2 separate regions of the Homo sapiens genome follow, and region 2 is linked to region 1. A link means that fine-mapping ties the variant in region 1 to the expression of a gene that starts in the linked region. Tissue or cell type: whole blood. Region 1 holds a variant in brackets; the other region holds the start of a gene. All regions are shown on one strand. Distances are between the middles of the regions.

What was found. PIP is the estimated chance that this variant, and not a neighbour inherited with it, causes the effect.
Region 2: it holds the start of MAFB, and the variant in region 1 is fine-mapped to the expression of MAFB in whole blood (TOPMed, PIP above 0.99).

What each region holds. Positions count from the first base shown.
Region 1 is chr20:40,459,118-40,467,299 of GRCh38, forward strand. It overlaps LOC105372618 (a long non-coding RNA gene), which reads right to left. Exons shown (of 3, transcript XR_936718.3): 1 at 7,590-8,182; 2 at 5,203-5,324. Among named protein-coding and RNA genes, the nearest start is that of MAFB, 230 kb to the right of the region's middle. The variant A/G (reference allele first, on the strand shown) is at 3,757.
Region 2 is chr20:40,685,526-40,693,707 of GRCh38, forward strand. MAFB (MAF bZIP transcription factor B) reads right to left here and starts at 3,711. Exons shown (of 1, transcript NM_005461.5): 1 at 323-3,711. The coding sequence starts at 3,325. The coding sequence ends at 2,354. RefSeq lists silencers at 3,574-3,643, 3,664-3,973 and enhancers at 3,924-4,901, 4,902-5,877.

The sequences.
Region 1 (8,182 bases):
CTTCTGTCCAAAAGTACATCCTGGTTTGGATGATTAAATTATATCACCCTAGCCAAGCCCAACAAGATCCAGCCTAAACCATGTCTTCCTTACACTAACAATGGGCACCCCTTTGTGGTCAGTAGATACCCCAGAATTTTTTAAAAAGCCATGTCCTGGAAGGCAGGAGGCCTGGACAGCAATTCTCATGGCAGCAGGTGAGGTAAAAATAATACTTTTCCTAAATGCAGTCTATCTGCACAAGATTTTATAAAAGTGCTATGGGGTATTTTCTGAGAAATAAACTCCTTAATATGACTTCATGGTAAGAGTTCTATTTCCTTTATTCTCAGGAGTCCTAGGGAAGAAAAATATGCCCCCTGGCAGTGTTCCATAAAACTAATGATGTGGGGGAATACGTGAATAATTGCCTGAATCGCCGGGTTACATATCTGTTAGGAAATCTCTTGGCAATATAAAGAAGGGGCTCAGGACAGTTAAATTGAAGTCAAGTGAAATAAACTCCTGCTGCATCAGCTCGATGATCTTGTGGGTCAAGGGAGCTGTGGCAGCCCTCTCTGCACTTTGGGAATGTTGGGCCTCCAAGTTTTCTGGGTTCAGAGCAACAGGGACATAGGATGAGGAGTAGAAGGAAGGAATAAACAGGCATGGACCAGACATTGCAGGGATGCAAAGGGAAGTTCTGGAGCCAAGTCTTCAAAGCTACAGATCAAAAACTCGGGCAAGGAGCAGTGGCTCATGCCTGTAATCTCAGCGCTTTGGAAGGCCAAGGTAGATGGATCACTTGAGGCCAGGAGTTCAAGACCAACCTGGCCAACATGGTGAAACCTCATCTCTCTGAAATTCAAAAATTAGCTGGGTGTGGTGGTGGGTGCCTGTAATCCTAGCTACTTGGGAGGCTGAGGCATGAAAATCCTTTGAACCCAGGAGGCAGAGGTTGCAATGAGCCAAGATCATGCCACTGCACTCCAGCCTGGGTGACAGAGCAAGACTGTCAAAAAAAAAGGGAGGGAGAGAGATAGGGAGGGAAGAAGGAAGGAAGGAAGGAAGGAAGGAAGGAAGGAAGGAAGGAAGGAAGGAAGGAAGGAAGGAAGGAAGGAAGGAAGAAAGGATGAAGGAAGGAAGGAAGGAGAGAAGGAAGGAAGGAAGGAAGGAAGGAAGGAAGGAAGGAAGGAAGGAAGGAAGGAAGGAAGGAAGGAAGGAAAGATTACTGGTGAGTGGTCAGATAGATGGATGGATGAATGAATGAATTCTAAGTGTGGGGTTATTCCTTGTGCAATATTGATATTGTACTTCATAATATTATACTTCCAAAATTATTAGAGTAAAAGGAAATGATTCAAAAAGCAAGGAAAGGTTCAGTGTGCTGAAAAATACAGTAAGCCCAATTCCTTTCTCACCCACCCCACTCTCAGCCACGGAAAGAGGACTGATACTACAGCATCAGAGACCATCCAAGACAATACAGTTGTCCCTCAGTATCCTCAGGGGATTGGTTCCAGAACACCCTGTGGAAACCAAAATCTGCAGATGCTCAAGTCTCTAATATAAAATGGTATAGTATTTGCATAGAACCTATGCACATCTTCCCATATACTTTAAATCCTCTCTAGATTACTTATACCTAATACAAGGTAAATGCTATCTAAATAGTTGTTATACTGTATTGTTTGGAGAATAATAAGAAGGAAAAATGTCTACACATGTTTAGTACAGATGCAACCATCCTTTTTTAAATTTGTTTTCAATATTTTTGATCCACAGTTGGTTGAATCCACAGATGTGAAACTTATGGATATAGAGAGTTTTATGTTTTTTGAGAGAGAGATGGGGTCTCACTATCAAAAGCCTGGGGTTGCCCAGGCTGCTCTTGAACTGCTGGGCTCAAGCAATTCTTCCACCTCGCAATCCCAAAGTGCTGGAATTACAGACGTGTGCCACTGCACCTGGTCCAACTGTGTTTTAAATTATTCTTCCAGGGTAATATAGAAATTTGGATAAAATTCTTGAATTTGAACAAAGTAGACACCAGTTTGCACAATGCAGGACATCAATCCATCCATGCCCTTTGTCTCCAGATATCTGGTGTGGATGTGCATTCATGTCAACACAACTTTTTAAATTGCATTTTTTCCTCCTTCTCACTCATGTGTCTTCAGAGTAAACTGAAGAATTATTTCAGTGGAGCCATAAACCTCTCGGTCTCCCAAGACATACATATGGACTCCATGTCAATTTTCTCTCCCACACTGCACCTGAACTATTTCAAACTATCTTCCCAGTTGACCAAACCAGAAACCTCAGAGTCGCCCACTACTCTGACCTCTCTCTAACCCCCAACCCGTTAGTCTTTCTCTCATAAATCTCTCTGGTTCTTCCAGCCCACAGCCTGTCCACTCTCATCCAGGTCTCCACCACATCTCCCCTGGGTTGTAGGAGAAGCTCTTAGCTGCCTCTTGGCCTGGGCTCTCTCCTTTAAATCCATCCTATACCTAGAAACCAGAGGGATTTTTCCAAAACAGAAATTTGACCTCCCTGGTCCCCTGGCAACCCATCAATGGCTTCATGCTGTCTTTAAATTAAATCTGAACCCCATGTGAGGCTCTGCACAATTCGGCCTCTGCTTGTTCTTCCAGCCTCATCTCACCACTCCCTGCTTCTCACCCGAGGCCTAGCAGCAGCCTCCATTTCTCTGGCTCCTTGTTTTCTGTCACTTTCAATCATTAGACCTCCTCTTCTAGTTCCTGGAACTCAATTGCTCACTCCATCTCAATCCTTTTTTTACCTAAGCACGATTCTTTCACTCCACAGGTTTTGCTGAAGTATCCTACCATATTCTGCAAGAGAGTATCTCAACATCCTCCTAGCTTAACACTTAACAACATAGTATTATGTTAGCTTGATCAACTCACTCTCCTCCCCTTGTCTGAAAGATCAAAAAAGGCAGCCCCAGGCCAATCGTGTTTGTGTTCCTAGCACCTAGGCCAATTCCTGACTTAAAGTAGGTATTAGAAAAAACTTTTTGAATGCCAGACAAATCCATGAACTGAGGACAACTCTTTGTTTATTCAACATATATTAATGGAGGGCCTGATATGTGTCAGGTATAGTTCTCAGCGTGTGGGATACATCAGTAAAAAACATAAAATGCCTACCCTGGTGGTGCTTACTTTTCAGATGGAGGGAGACATTTATTTACATATTTAACAAATATTTATCCGGCAGAGAATCATTGCACACACAAAAAAGATGGGGTGGCCTGGCCAGACATGTACATGACAGATCAGTTCTAAAATATTTTCCTTGTTTTTAGTTTCTACTTCAATGAAAAATTTGTCGTCATCTTAGTGTTACCGTCCTGGAAATTCTCAATGTCCTCTTTGCCTGCTCAATGTTTCTCTGTAACAGTGTTCATCATCTAATATAAAGAGCAACACAAACACATAGTTTGTGCTCAATCAAAGCTTGTGGAATACAGAAACAAACAAGAAACTCCAAGAGCTCATTCAGTAAACTTACAAACAAGTAAGAAGATGAGCTTATGATCAGCCTGCTCAAAGCAAAAGAAAAGGGAAGGAAACAATTTTTCTAAGAGCCCTTCAGAAAAGGGAGAAAAGCTTTGCAAAACTCAGAGAACCCAGGAGCAGTAACTGATCTTTATGATCCAGTACAGAAGCCTGAGTAACCGCAGGCTGTCTCAGGTTTTAATACAAGGTTATTTACATAGTTACCTAATTATTATGTCTCAATAGAGGG[A/G]AGGAAAAAAAGCAAGTGTTTTTCTACTCCCTATTTGCCTTAAAGATCTAAGGGTAATAAATTGTTAGTTTTATTCTTAATTGGTACATGCTTCTTCCAATTTCTTTTCTTTAAAAAAATCAATACGTGGTTTGCGAGACCTTTAATGGAGAGTAAAGAACTGTGACTAGACTTCTTCCTTATTATTGAGATAATCTGTCAGCATTTATCTTTTAAAGGGGCCTCAGGTAAGGCAGACATGATTAAGTTTTTGCAGTAGTAAATGCTGGGCCATTTCTAGAGTTAAAATGATATGAAAAATATAACTGCATCAGGCTATGCCTGATAAAAGACAGTGTCTCTTTTGCAAAAATGTGGGCTGTGGGTCTGGTCTGCTGAGGCAGGGCTCCCAACATCTTGGAAATGTTGTGCCCAACCACTGCCCACTGCCCTGGCCGAGCTCCTGCCCCCACTGAGCTTCGGGAAGTGACTGCGGCTGTTCCCAGCGAGCCTGACCAGAGGCAGAGGCCACTGGTAACCTTAACCCCACGTGGGCAGGCCCTCGTCAGAGCCTCTCCCCAACCCTAAAATTAACCAGTAAGTTTTTGGAAGGGGAGGTGGACAGAGAAGTGCAGGGCCCTGTTTGCTCTTTGGAGCCCAAAGGAAACAGGAGCCTGGGAGCTGACACCCTGGGCCTGAAAAATTGTAATTGTTAGACAAGCCCAGGCATGTGAACAAGAGCTTCCCTACCCCAATCTGCAAGGCAGACACCCTGAGAGTGTTAGAGTTGGTATGGGCAGGGTCCTTCACACTCTGAAGTATGTGGTTACCCAGCAGGCTGGTGGGCAGAGCATGGAAAAGTCCGAATCAACCATAATCAAGTAAATGGCTAAGGCCGAGTTCAGGTAAGGCCCTGCCTACAAATCCAACTCACATTACCTGTGCACCTCATTGTGCCTGTGCCAGACAATGTGCCTCAATTTAACCTTTGCAAAACTTGTCTGATATGGACATTTGTATTCTCGTTTGATAGATAAGGGAGTAAGGGCTCAGAGAATTTAATTAACCTTCCCAAGGCCACACAGCTAAATGGCAGGACTAAGATTCACTATCAGTCTGTTGTACTTCTCAAGTTATCTTTGCTCTACCAAACATCCCAAGCAAAGAAGTTAACATGATGTAATGGTGAAGAGCATGGGCTCTATAGCCATAGCGCCTAGGTTTGAATCCTGGCTCTGCTACTTACTAGCTATGTGGCTTTAGGCAAGTTACTTAACTTTTCTGTGCCACAGTTTTCTCATCTGGAAAACAGGGACAACAGTTGTATATTTATCATCGTGTGATTAGGAGAATGTAAATATGTGAATATTTGTCAAGTACTTAGAAGAGTCCCTGGCGTATAATGAATACATATACATGTTTCATGTGTGCTAAATAAATAAAAGAAAGGGATCTTTTCATTCTCACCACACAAGAGTTCATTTTCCAGTCTCTGGACTCAGAAGAAGGTGTTTTGCAGTTTCCTAACATCATGGAGTCCGAAAAGTGCTTTTGCTACAAGGGTCTCACTTTACTGTCACAACAGCTGTCTAAAGAAGAAAGGAAGATTAGACCCATGTAACAGAAGAATACACTGAGACTTGACAACATGAGGACCTTTATAAGGTCATTTAGCAGGTAAATAAAGAGCAAGAAAGATCCAACTCGACCTTTCTGACCCTGAATCCGTGCTATGCCCACACTCTAAATAAAAGCATGAACTTGTGAGTTTGTGGATGAAAGCTTGGCATTGCGTCCAAAATGAGGCCATGGGACAGACTGCTGCTGCCATTTAACCCCAGGTCCTGAGAAATTCCTCAACCCTTCCCATGAGTCAGGGACTCCTGGATTCAGTGCTGCTGTGGACTGCCCATTATGCCTCTCCCCTGTACTCAGGAGATGGAAGACTCTCTAGAGTTGACCACTGTGAACCAAAGACAATAGAGTGTTCTCTTTTTGCACAAAGAACAAAACAGAACATCAAGAGTCTTAGTGATTTATTCAAGTCACATGAGTTCAATGAGTAGGGAACTGCATCAAGAGACAGCTTCCAGTTAATTTTATGAACCTTATATGCATTGCCCAATATGAGTGTTCAACCCCATGGTTCCCTGTTTTTTTTGGGTTTTTTTTTTTTTTGTCTTTTTTTTGTTTTGTTTTTTTGTGCAATCAATGACCTAAATTCTAGGGAAGTTAGGGTAGAACTAGAGAAGACAGGGAAGAGCAAAAGAAAACAAAATGTGCTCAGTTTGGTTCCGAGGAAGGGTGCGGAAGCTGGATCCAGATGGTGGGGGTTTGGGGAACTGGATAAATCAAGAGAGTTGAGGTCCTTGGAAAAACTGAAGACGGATGTTTTCAAGGACATAGAAACATGGCTCGTAGCAATGCTCCTGGAGGCCCAGCAGAGACCAGCAATACTTGATCTCGGGGATCAACATTAGTGTCTTAATGCTGGTTATTGTCCCAAAGTAAGTAAGGTGTGCAGTGTTCAAGATCTGTCCCATTCCAATGATGAGGAAACCAAGGACCAACAAGAGGTGTGCATTTTAGAGCCCCTCCCCATCCCAGGCCAATGACCACAAAACCGATTCTGTCCCCCTTCCCCCACAGGTAGTGCCTATGCTCCTGATCCTCCCCCAATGGGACAAGGACAGGCCATTTGACCCAAGCCTGTTCCTCAAGAGATTGACAATAAAAATGCCCACATTTTAAATGTGTACATGCTACAATTTTCTGATTATAAAATCAATACAAGCTTATTTGAAAAGAACTTGGATCTGCTGGTATGTGCACATCCTTTCTTCTGCAATGAATCAAAGGATTTATTACCAATGGTTTCATCTGGGAAGATTGTAGGTGAGAAGGAAGATTTTGGATTTTGTTTTTGAGCTGTTTTAAATTGTGTGTGTGTGTGTGTGTGTGCATGTGTATGTGTCAAAAAGATATCTGGGAAATGGGATTGTAGACCACTTCGTTTTGTCTTATTATGGTGTCATCTGTGTCTCCATAGTAAGAGAGAGAAAGAGGAAAAGGAGTAGGTTAATAATCAATCTTAAATAATTTGAAAACTAAAGAAAATCAAAATCAACAGTAATCATACCATCTAGATCTAAAGGCTCATATCATTTTAGCATACCTTCATGCTGAAATAATGAGGATTATTCTATATCTAAATTCTAAATTATTCTTTTATTTATCCTTATTTTATGTTATGCCACAAATAATTTTACATATCATTAAATATGCTTCAGAAGCATCCACCTAATGGCTGTAGAGGGGCCTTCCTAGAAAATAACTTTTTATCTATAAATTTCATGTTCATTGAGCACTTCCTAGGTGTCTCCTGCCAAGCACAGCTTCCATGGCGAGGGTTAGATGACACACACCATGGCACAATGTGTAACCAGATGGTTTGATGCCAGAGACTATGTGCTTAACCACTTTACTTCTACATGGAGCATGGTTTCTTAAGCCAACCTTCCTCTGTAGCACATGTACATTGTTCCCAATTCGTCACTATTGAACAACCCTGAGATGTACATCTTTGTCCATAGATCTTTACATCTCTGAGTACTTCCCTAAGTGAACACTTCACAAAAGAGTTGTTTGACTCATAAGAATAAAAATGTTTAAGGCTCTTGATGCATTTCCCTAAGGAACCCACTTAGCATCTCCACAACAGGGTTTGAGAAGGTAAAAATTAGAACTCTTTTTTTATTTATTTGTGACTTATTTCATTACAGTTGAGCTGATTTTTCAGTTTATTAGCCATTTACATTTCTTAGTAGTCAACTTATTGTTTTATGTTAACTCACCTCACTGATACAGTAATAAATTTGGTGTTCCTTTAGTGTAGGTATGGGAAATTTCTTCAAAAATCAACAATATTCTTGTCTGGAACACTGAATTATTTTCTAGAATGCAGATGCATTGTCGACTTATATGAGTGCTCGTCCTGGAAGGAAACAGATGGTGCCCTGAACGGGGATAACCGAGGAGAGTTTATTATAGGGAGCATTTACAAGGGTGTGAGCAGGGTTAAGGAGACCCAGAAGAGTTGGTGCAGCATCCGGGGGCTGGCAACACAGAGGAGCCATTACCTCCCCTCAGTTTAAAGGGGAGGGAAGAGCCTGGAGAGAGTAGCTGTGGTTGTCAGAGAAGCACTAGGCAGGGCAGGATGCAGCCAACCCTCAGAAGGTAATACTCTGGTGTCCTCATCTCTTCCACCTCAGGGTGCAGGGTAGAATTGCTACACTATCTCCCATGGGTCTCATGGTAAAGCAATAACGTCTAAACAGGAAGCCATTAAGGCCTCTATTTTGATCAAAAAAACAGCCTCTGTAAATCCAGACAGGATCCCAGGGGACCAGCATCCCAGTTCAGGGCCTAAGCTGTAGCTCCAACTGGC
Region 2 (8,182 bases), 230 kb after region 1:
CAGACAGACTAGCAAGTCAGTTCTGGTGGCCAAGCCTGAAAGCACTGAAAAAGTGGCGTGTGCCCCACACCCAGGGACTCCAAGGCTGTTTGGACCTGCGCCCTCTCAGCTCATAATCCAGCTCTCTTGACCAGGGTCTGTACCTAGGGTGGGAAGCAGAGAACACATTTGAGGCTCATGTACACACACACTCAGACACTCAAGGAAGGGATTTGCTAGGGCTTGGTTTGCTATTCCATTGGCCATGGGGTGAGAGTAACCCAAAGTTGATGCGACTCTTGAGGAAGCAAGAGAAGAAAGTCAAAATCATGCGAACGCAGAGTCCTCTAAATAAACACCATTTCCATGGTTTTAATAAGCAAAATAGGAAACCATTTTAATAACCAAAAAACAGAAACCAGTCTGAATAAAACTACAATAGACTAGGTTTTAATATTTTCATATCATAAGCAGGGTTTGAAATTGATCCCTTATTTTACATGAAATAAAAACAATTTCTGTTGCGGCAGGTTTGATTTCAACACAGTTGAATCTGTAAAAACCAAAGCTCGTTTCTGATGCAGGACAAATATCCACAATATTTAAAACTGCAAGCACCATGCGGTTCATACAATCTTGTTATTACTGTTAATTTATCAACTAATACAAACTCAAAAATGCATCCGGCCAGCAGCGCCAGCAATTTCAAATGGGAACTTAAAAATACACTTTTATTTTGGTATTTTTGTCAGTGCAACTTAAATCCTTTTACTGACCTGCAGAAAAAAAAAAGTAATAATAAAGAAAAACACCCATATCTTCCCTATAACTACTATACAACTGAAGAATTGAAGGGGGGGGACACCACCAAGAACTCTTCCTACTATCTCAAAAGCAGGGAAAGAAACGCAATGCATTGGTCTAAAGAACGCACTTGAAAGTTGCAAAATTACTTGCCAATGTTTGGGTTTCTGGTACATTCTGAGCATAGCAGTTGGTTCAGTGCAGTGTCTGCTTACCAGTGCACTGCCAGGGTCAGGGATGGCTAAGCCTCTCACCCTAGGAGCGCTGTGGCTCCTACAATTAGCGCAGGCCCAGAGGGTTCAGAAGGGACCTCAGGGTGATTCTGGTTACAATAAAAAGCAGAGGGGAGGATCTGTTTTCCTTTCCTTTCCTTTCTTATTAAGGGTATCAATTTGACCATAAGACAAGGCTGTAGTCCAGAACACTCCTCTGGGGTGCGGAGCTTGGCAGCTTCCCTGCCCTGCCCTGCCCTTGTACTGGGACCTCTCGGTTCTCTCTCTCAGCACCAACAAGGTTGAAAACTAAAGCGAGAGAGGAAAAAGAGGACCGAATGGGGATAAGGGAAGGAAAGAAAACATGCAACTTCCAAGTGTGCCCCAAGACAAAGTTGTTTTCTGATGCAAAATGCCCGGAACTTTTTCTTTTTTTTTTTCTTTTTAACTTACAAACAAAAATACCGTAATAATAAACCCAAACAAAGACCCTCAGCTTGCTGCCACGTTCTCTATGCGGTTTGGCGGGGCGGGTATTTACAAGCCTACAGCTGGGACTGAAACCCCGCACGCAGCCGCCGGAGTTTCCAAACTGCGATCCCTTCTCACCCAAAGAAACAAGGGGAGTATGATCCATGATCAACAACATGCTAAAGTTAAACAAGAAAATGGTACAAAATAGAAATTATTACCATACATGTCCAGCATGCAGGATTAATATTTTTAATGCAGATTTTTTGTATTTTTCTATATAATCGAGCAGGCAATAAAACTGATGAGATTTGGGCGCCGAGCGTCCTAACTGAGGCCTGTGTCTCAGGGCTGAGAGCCAGTGTTCTCCGAACTCTGACAGACAGGTCCGTCTGTCCTTCCTTCTTTCGCTCAGCCTCGCCTCTCGCCTGCCGGGACGCCAGAGTCCCTCTCCTTTCCTCGTTGCTCTCTTCCTGGCGCGGACTACTCTCCGGGCAGCAAAGCAGCTGTCCCGGCTTAACGCGCAAAGTTCAGAAAGCCAGGAGTCTCCAGATGGCCTTGGTGACTTCTCGGGACTATGCCTCGCCGCCCTTCAGCCTGGAGAGAAGTTACTCCGGGACCTCCCACCCTCTCGTCTCTCTCTCCGGCTCTGCTCGAGTCTAGGAGGCGGCGCTGGCGTGCGCTACTCTCGCCTTAGCCAAGGTCCCCTGCCCGCCCGCGCACCCGCCCGTCGCCCGCGGCCCGCGCGCCCTTCCTCCCTCTCGCTCAAGTCAAACAGGTCAAGGCTGGGGCCGCGGCAGGGACAGGGTCCGGGGTAGTCTGGGACTAGGGACGTGGGACAGGGAGTCCGGGCCGGGGCAAGGGCGGGGGCCAGGACCGGCCACGACTCACAGAAAGAACTCGGGAGAGGAGGGGCTGTCGCTGGTGGAGCCCGCCTCCCTGAAGCCGGAGTTGGCGAGTTTCTCGCACTTGACCTTGTAGGCGTCTCTCTCGCGGGCCAGCCGGGACACCTCCTGCTTAAGCTGCTCCACCTGCTGAATGAGCTGCGTCTTCTCATTCTCCAGGTGGTGCTTCTGCTGGACGCGTTTATACCTGCAAGACTGGGCGTAGCCCCGGTTCTTCAGGGTCCGCCGCTTCTGCTTCAGGCGGATCACCTCGTCCTTGGTGAAGCCCCGCAGGTGGCGGTTCAGCTCGCGCACGGACATGGACACGAGCTGGTCGTCGGAGAAGCGGTCCTCCACGCTGCCGTTGCCGCCCGCCGCCGTCGCCGAGGCCGTCGCGTGCGGCCCGGGCCCGGGGTGGCTAGTGGGCAGCTGTTGCGCCGGGCTAGCGGCGCTGGACGGCGGCGGCGACGCTTGGTGATGATGGTGATGGTGCGGGTGAGCGTGCGGGCCCAGCTCGTCGTGGGCCACGCCGGCGCCCGGGTACGCGTGGTGCGGGTGAGGGTGGTGGTGATGGTGGTGGTGGTGAGCGCCGCGAAAGCTGTCGAAGCTTTGCAGCGGCTGTGGCACTGGGTGCGAGCCGATGAGCGCTTCCACCGCGTCCTCGGGCGTCAGGTTGAGCGCCTCGGGGTTCATCTGCTGGTAGTTGCTCGCCATCCAGTACAGATCCTCGAGGTGTGTCTTCTGTTCGGTCGGGCTGAAGCTGGGCGACGAGGGCACGGAGCTACACGGAGTGCTGAGCGGTGTGGAGGACACCGAGCCGGCTGGCTGCAGGCGTGTGCAGGGCCTGCCCGGACGCTCCGCGCGCCCCAGTGGCTCCTTCTTCACGTCGAACTTGAGCAGGTCGAAGTCGTTGACATACTCCATGGCCAGCGGGCTGGTGGGCAGCTCTGGCCCCATGCTCAGCTCCGCGGCCATCGCTGAAGCGAGGCGCAGCCGCCGCTGCCGCCCGGGAAACTTTGCGGCCGGCCGGAGCGCGCCGAGCCAAGCGCGGGGGGGAAGAGCGGAGAAGAGCTGGGGAGGCGGGGAGCGAGGGCGCAGCGGGCCGGGGCCGCCGGCCAAGCCTTTGTCTGGGGACGCGGCGGCGCGCCGGAGAGTCCCGAGGCTGCCTGCACCGCCCCAGAGCTCTGGGCTGTGCCCGCGCAGGGACCGGGCCGGGTAGAGTCGGGCGGGGTGGAGAGGCAAGCGGAGCGCGCGGTGGGGCTGAGGGGAGGCGTGGGGCGAGTGCCCGTTGCTCGCTCTCTAGCTCTCTTGCTCTTACGCTCTCTCGCTCGCAGCCGCTCGCAGCTCGGCGGTGCAGCTGTGCTGGATCCGGCGGCGCCGCAGCCTTTTATCGCCTCCTGATGTCACTGGGGTGCGGGGGCCCGGGCGGCCCGGTGCGCGGGCCAATAGCTGCACGGCCTCCGCGGCCCAGCGGCGCAGGGCGGGGCGCGCCTGACAGCTCCCCCGCCCCCCGCGTCAGCTGACTGGCGGCCCGAGCGGCCCCGGAGCGGCGGAGGCCTGGCGGAGCGCTGGAGCGGAGTGGGACGGCCAGCCTGGGCCCACCCCCGTACCCTGCAGGTCCCGGCCCACGCACGCTCGCCTGGAGTGCGCGCCCCACCTCTAGGCCAAATCACCGCTTTCCCCTCCTCGCGCACTCTCCTCCCTCAGTTCCCTTTGCACCCCACCCCCATCCCGTGTCACCCCCAAGGAGGCTCAGAATGAGCGCCGGGACAACGCCTCCTGGGCCCTTTGTTCCCAAGCGGCCCCCGCCCAGTGGGCGACGCTCTGTGTGTCCTCGCGGCTTCTGGCCGTGTGTGTCGTGCGTTCCTGTTTCTGGAGATCTGCGCGTATTTGTATGTTGGGGAGGGCGGGCTCGAGGCTCCGAGAGTTGTGTTCAGACCCAACTCTTAACCTCAGGGGACCTTTCTCAGGCCAAGCGAGGGCCCCTCCTGGCGGGTGCAGTCGCAGAGCCCTGAGGTTCGACTCCACTGGCCCCGCCGCTCCCCGCGTTCACCCCACCGCACAATGTTCACAGTGAAGGCGACGGGAAAAGCAGCAGCCCAAAGGCTCTGAATTCCTCTTCCCCGCCACACGCACGGAATCCTGAGCCCCCGGAGCCTCGGGGCCGAGGCCGGCCCGGGACGGTGCTCCGAGTAGCTCTCCACTGCTGGGGAGCCGGCCCTGTTTTTGTTTGAACGTTTTGTAACGATTAAGCAGATCCCGGCGTCAGCCCGCCGCGGAGAGGCTCAAACAGGCATAAAGTGCGACCCCAAGTGGCCACTGTGCGCAAAGGCGCCGCGACCGCCCGGCCCACGGCCGGAAGGCTTGGACGGCGCCTCGTACCCAGCCAGGTCTCCCCTACCTGGCCCAACCCAAGCCAGCCCAGAACGCATACTATGTGTGCACCAGAGCCCAGGACAGGTTCCCCTCGAGCGATGTACAGGTCCTCGGGTCCCGTCTTCGTACTCAGCCGCGAGCCTCGAGCCGCGAGCTCCGCTCTGGTCGCCCCGTTGAAATTCCGTGCCCCAGCGTTCGGGGGTGCCCGTCGGCTGCTCCCTGGGCCGGAAGGTCCTGGGCGGAGGAAGGCCGGTAGCCAAAAGTGGAAGCGCCACAGTGAAGCGGCCCAGGGCCACCGGGTGAGAAACCTCCCCGGAGGGCAGACGGGGAGACCGAAGCACACCGCACTAGGCATCCAGACTGGGCTTGGGAGCCGCGCACCCTCCCTACCCAGATCCAGGATGGCTAGAATTAACGGGTTCTTTCTGAGACCTCGGCTCAGGCGCCGAAACCGGATAGATCGCGAATTCGCTGGACCCGGAGACCCGACCCGCCTCCCGCGTCACCTTCTTCTTTCTAGCTTTGGGCGCGCGCAGCGAAAGGCAGGAGAGGCGCGCACTGGGTGAGTGAGTCCCGGCCGCTGTCTGCGCTGGACCAGCCCGACTGACCTCGCGCGTAGGGGTCGCGTGAGCCACACCGGTGCAGACGCGCCTAGATTATTTTTAAATGTTAGAAGGTAAAATATTTGCCTCCAATTAATCTGAAAACTCTCTATTCTCTTGCGCCCTCGGAGAGGCTGGGGTACGGCGTGGTATTGGGCCGCCTATTTTTAATAAAATGAGTGTATTTTAACTAAAACTTAACTCAATCTTGTGGGGTGGCAAATTAAATGCTGGAAGAGCGCGTCTACAACCCTCTTCGAGAAGCGTGCTCTCCGCAGAAATGAGTCGGCCGCCTGGAGAGAGAGCCTGGGCGGTGCCGCTGCGCAGCCCCTGCCAGTAGCTGGGGGTTGGGGACTCGCACCTTGTAAATGTCCTCGTCTTGTTTGAACGCAGTGAGAGCACACTCGTTTCCAGATCACTCGGGACCGGGTGTCTCGGATCTGTGCAGACTATGTATGGCTCCGGCCTCAGGCGGCCAGGGCGGGACAAGCACGCCTGACTCTCTTGGTCCCGACTGGACTAGAGCTGGTAGCACCCTCCCTCAGGGTCCTAAGAGACCTGTGGCTCCCAGAGTGTTTCTGCCACTGTGGACTTCTGCGCGGGCACCAAGATGGACAGGCCAAGCTGTGACCCACTCCACCCCCGCCCATACGTCCCCTCGGCTCTGCCTGACACTGGCCGTCGAAGACTTCCGTGGCCCATTAAGGCCCTGGGGATTCCTGAGGCCCCAGGTCTGCGGTTCCGAACCTCCTCTTCTCCTGCGGGCGGCCTGCCTCCGACTCAGGGTCTCTTGGACTCGGGCTTTGGGCAACCGCGCTCTTCTTTGTCCCTGTGCCTCTGTCTCTGTTGTGGTCACTCCCTTCGCCTGGGCTTTGACTGTGGTATCTCTGTCCATCCCCAGGCTCACTTCCCCACCCAAATCCGTTTCTCTGCCCCTCTCCCAGCTTAGCCACTCCCTCCTCTGCACACCCCACAACCTACCCCACCAAAAAAAAATGTTGGAAACAGCCCTACCCCTGCCAGGCTGTGGGTGAATGACGGAGACATGCAGGTGGCCGAGGAGTTAAGGCCGCTGCTGCGCAGCCGGCCCCACTTCGTGGCCTGGCCTCCCCCACCCCGGTTACTGCTGCGCTGACTTGGAGCCCCAGGCCCTATAGCCTCCAACTTCCGACTGCTGTCGCGGGATGCCGCTTCTCATCTCTGGGGTCTCTGGATCAGCATGCCAGGCTCGGCTCCCCGTCATGGATACACAGCAGTGCCCGCAGTCTTCACCCTATCCCTAAAACGTAGGCAGGGTTGAGGTGAGGAGGGTGAGGGATTGCTGCTGTATACCTATTGACTGGGAGTCCGACACGCTCAAAGAAAAAAAGTAAAAGAAGGAACGGTGGAAGAAGTGAAGGGTCGAGGAGAAGTAAAGGGAGGCCAGGAGACACGCGAGCAGTGCACGGAGTCCCAAGGCACACTGAAGGAAATGCACGGAGTCCCAAGGCACACTGAAGGAAAGTCGGGGATTTTGCGGCAGCCACAGCCCCTCTAGTGAACAGCTTGTTGCCAAAACTCCCATTTAAGGTGTTTACCCAAGAGTGACCTCCTCTCTACCCACGCCAGGTTGGGCCAGAGGCTATGCCTCTGGGACGCACCGCCTCGGGATTCTTTAGCTACAAATGGTGATGGAGGAAGCTCTGCAGGGTCCGAGCCGCTGCAGAGCCTTGGAGCATTCGGGGTAGGAGTAAGAGAAGAGGTTATTCCCTAAGGGAGCGTGGAGCCCACAGCCAGCCGCCAGGTGTGAGGTTTGCCGCGCTGCCCTCGTTGGCCCCCACTCAGCCGAGGGAATAACTCCAGAGAGGCCCGGCGGCGTGTCCTCCCGTACGCCTGGAAACCAGAGCGGCATTCCTGGCATCCTCATTCAGCCCGAAGGTGCGCCGTTCACCTTCGGCGTTATTTCCCTGAGGGTTGCAGGTGGTTGGTGAGCGAGGAGGCGTCTCTGTGCACGCATGGGTGCTGTTGGAGGCGTGCGGGAGGGGTGTGTTCGTGCGTGTGCTGTTTGCGCGCGCGTGTGTGTTGGTGGAGAGGCGCAGCAGCACGCGGGATGCGGGAGCGGGAAACTTCCAGCTTCAAAGCTCGGTGGGCTCCGGATCGTACTATGCGGAGTCGCTAAGCAGAGGCCAGTGGTCTCAAGGGCCTCAGAGGCAAGTTCTGCCAGGGAGGGTCCTGAATCAGGGGACCCCCACCTCCCGCCTGCCGCAGGAGCTTGACTTCTGCCTTTGCATCACCCAGATGTAGTGTCACCTGTCTTTTCCAAGGAGCCCTCAGGTCTCTGCCACCTTTTGTGAGGCTCAGTGGAAAAGTATTATGTTGCTCCCATTCCGTGGGATCCTCCCAAGGTCTATGGAACCCAAAAAGAGACAGGAGGGTTTTCTGGGGGATTTTTGTTTCTGTTTTTTGCCCTTACTCTTCCTTTTCCTCTTCCCAAAGGCAGCTATCACTTCCACTTTCCCTTGCCCCATACAACCGCTGTCAGATTCCAACCCAGTGCTTCTAAAAAGGTATTCTTGGGTTTCTGGGTCCTGGTGGTCTTTAGGCAACCAAAAGATTCAGAGGGTCCCAGTAGGGAGCCAGAGTTACACTGACTGTGAAGATCCTGGCTGTCTCTCCTGGGGACCAGGGACAACACCCCAATACATGCAGAAATGTGCACGCGAGCACACACACACACTTAGGGGTAGGAAATTATTATTAAAACTATTTCACTGTTTTTTTTTACTGTGTTCTAATGTGACCAATAAATAATTTTAAATTACACATGTGCCTCACATTCTATTTCTGATGGACAAGCCTGCATTAGATAACCACT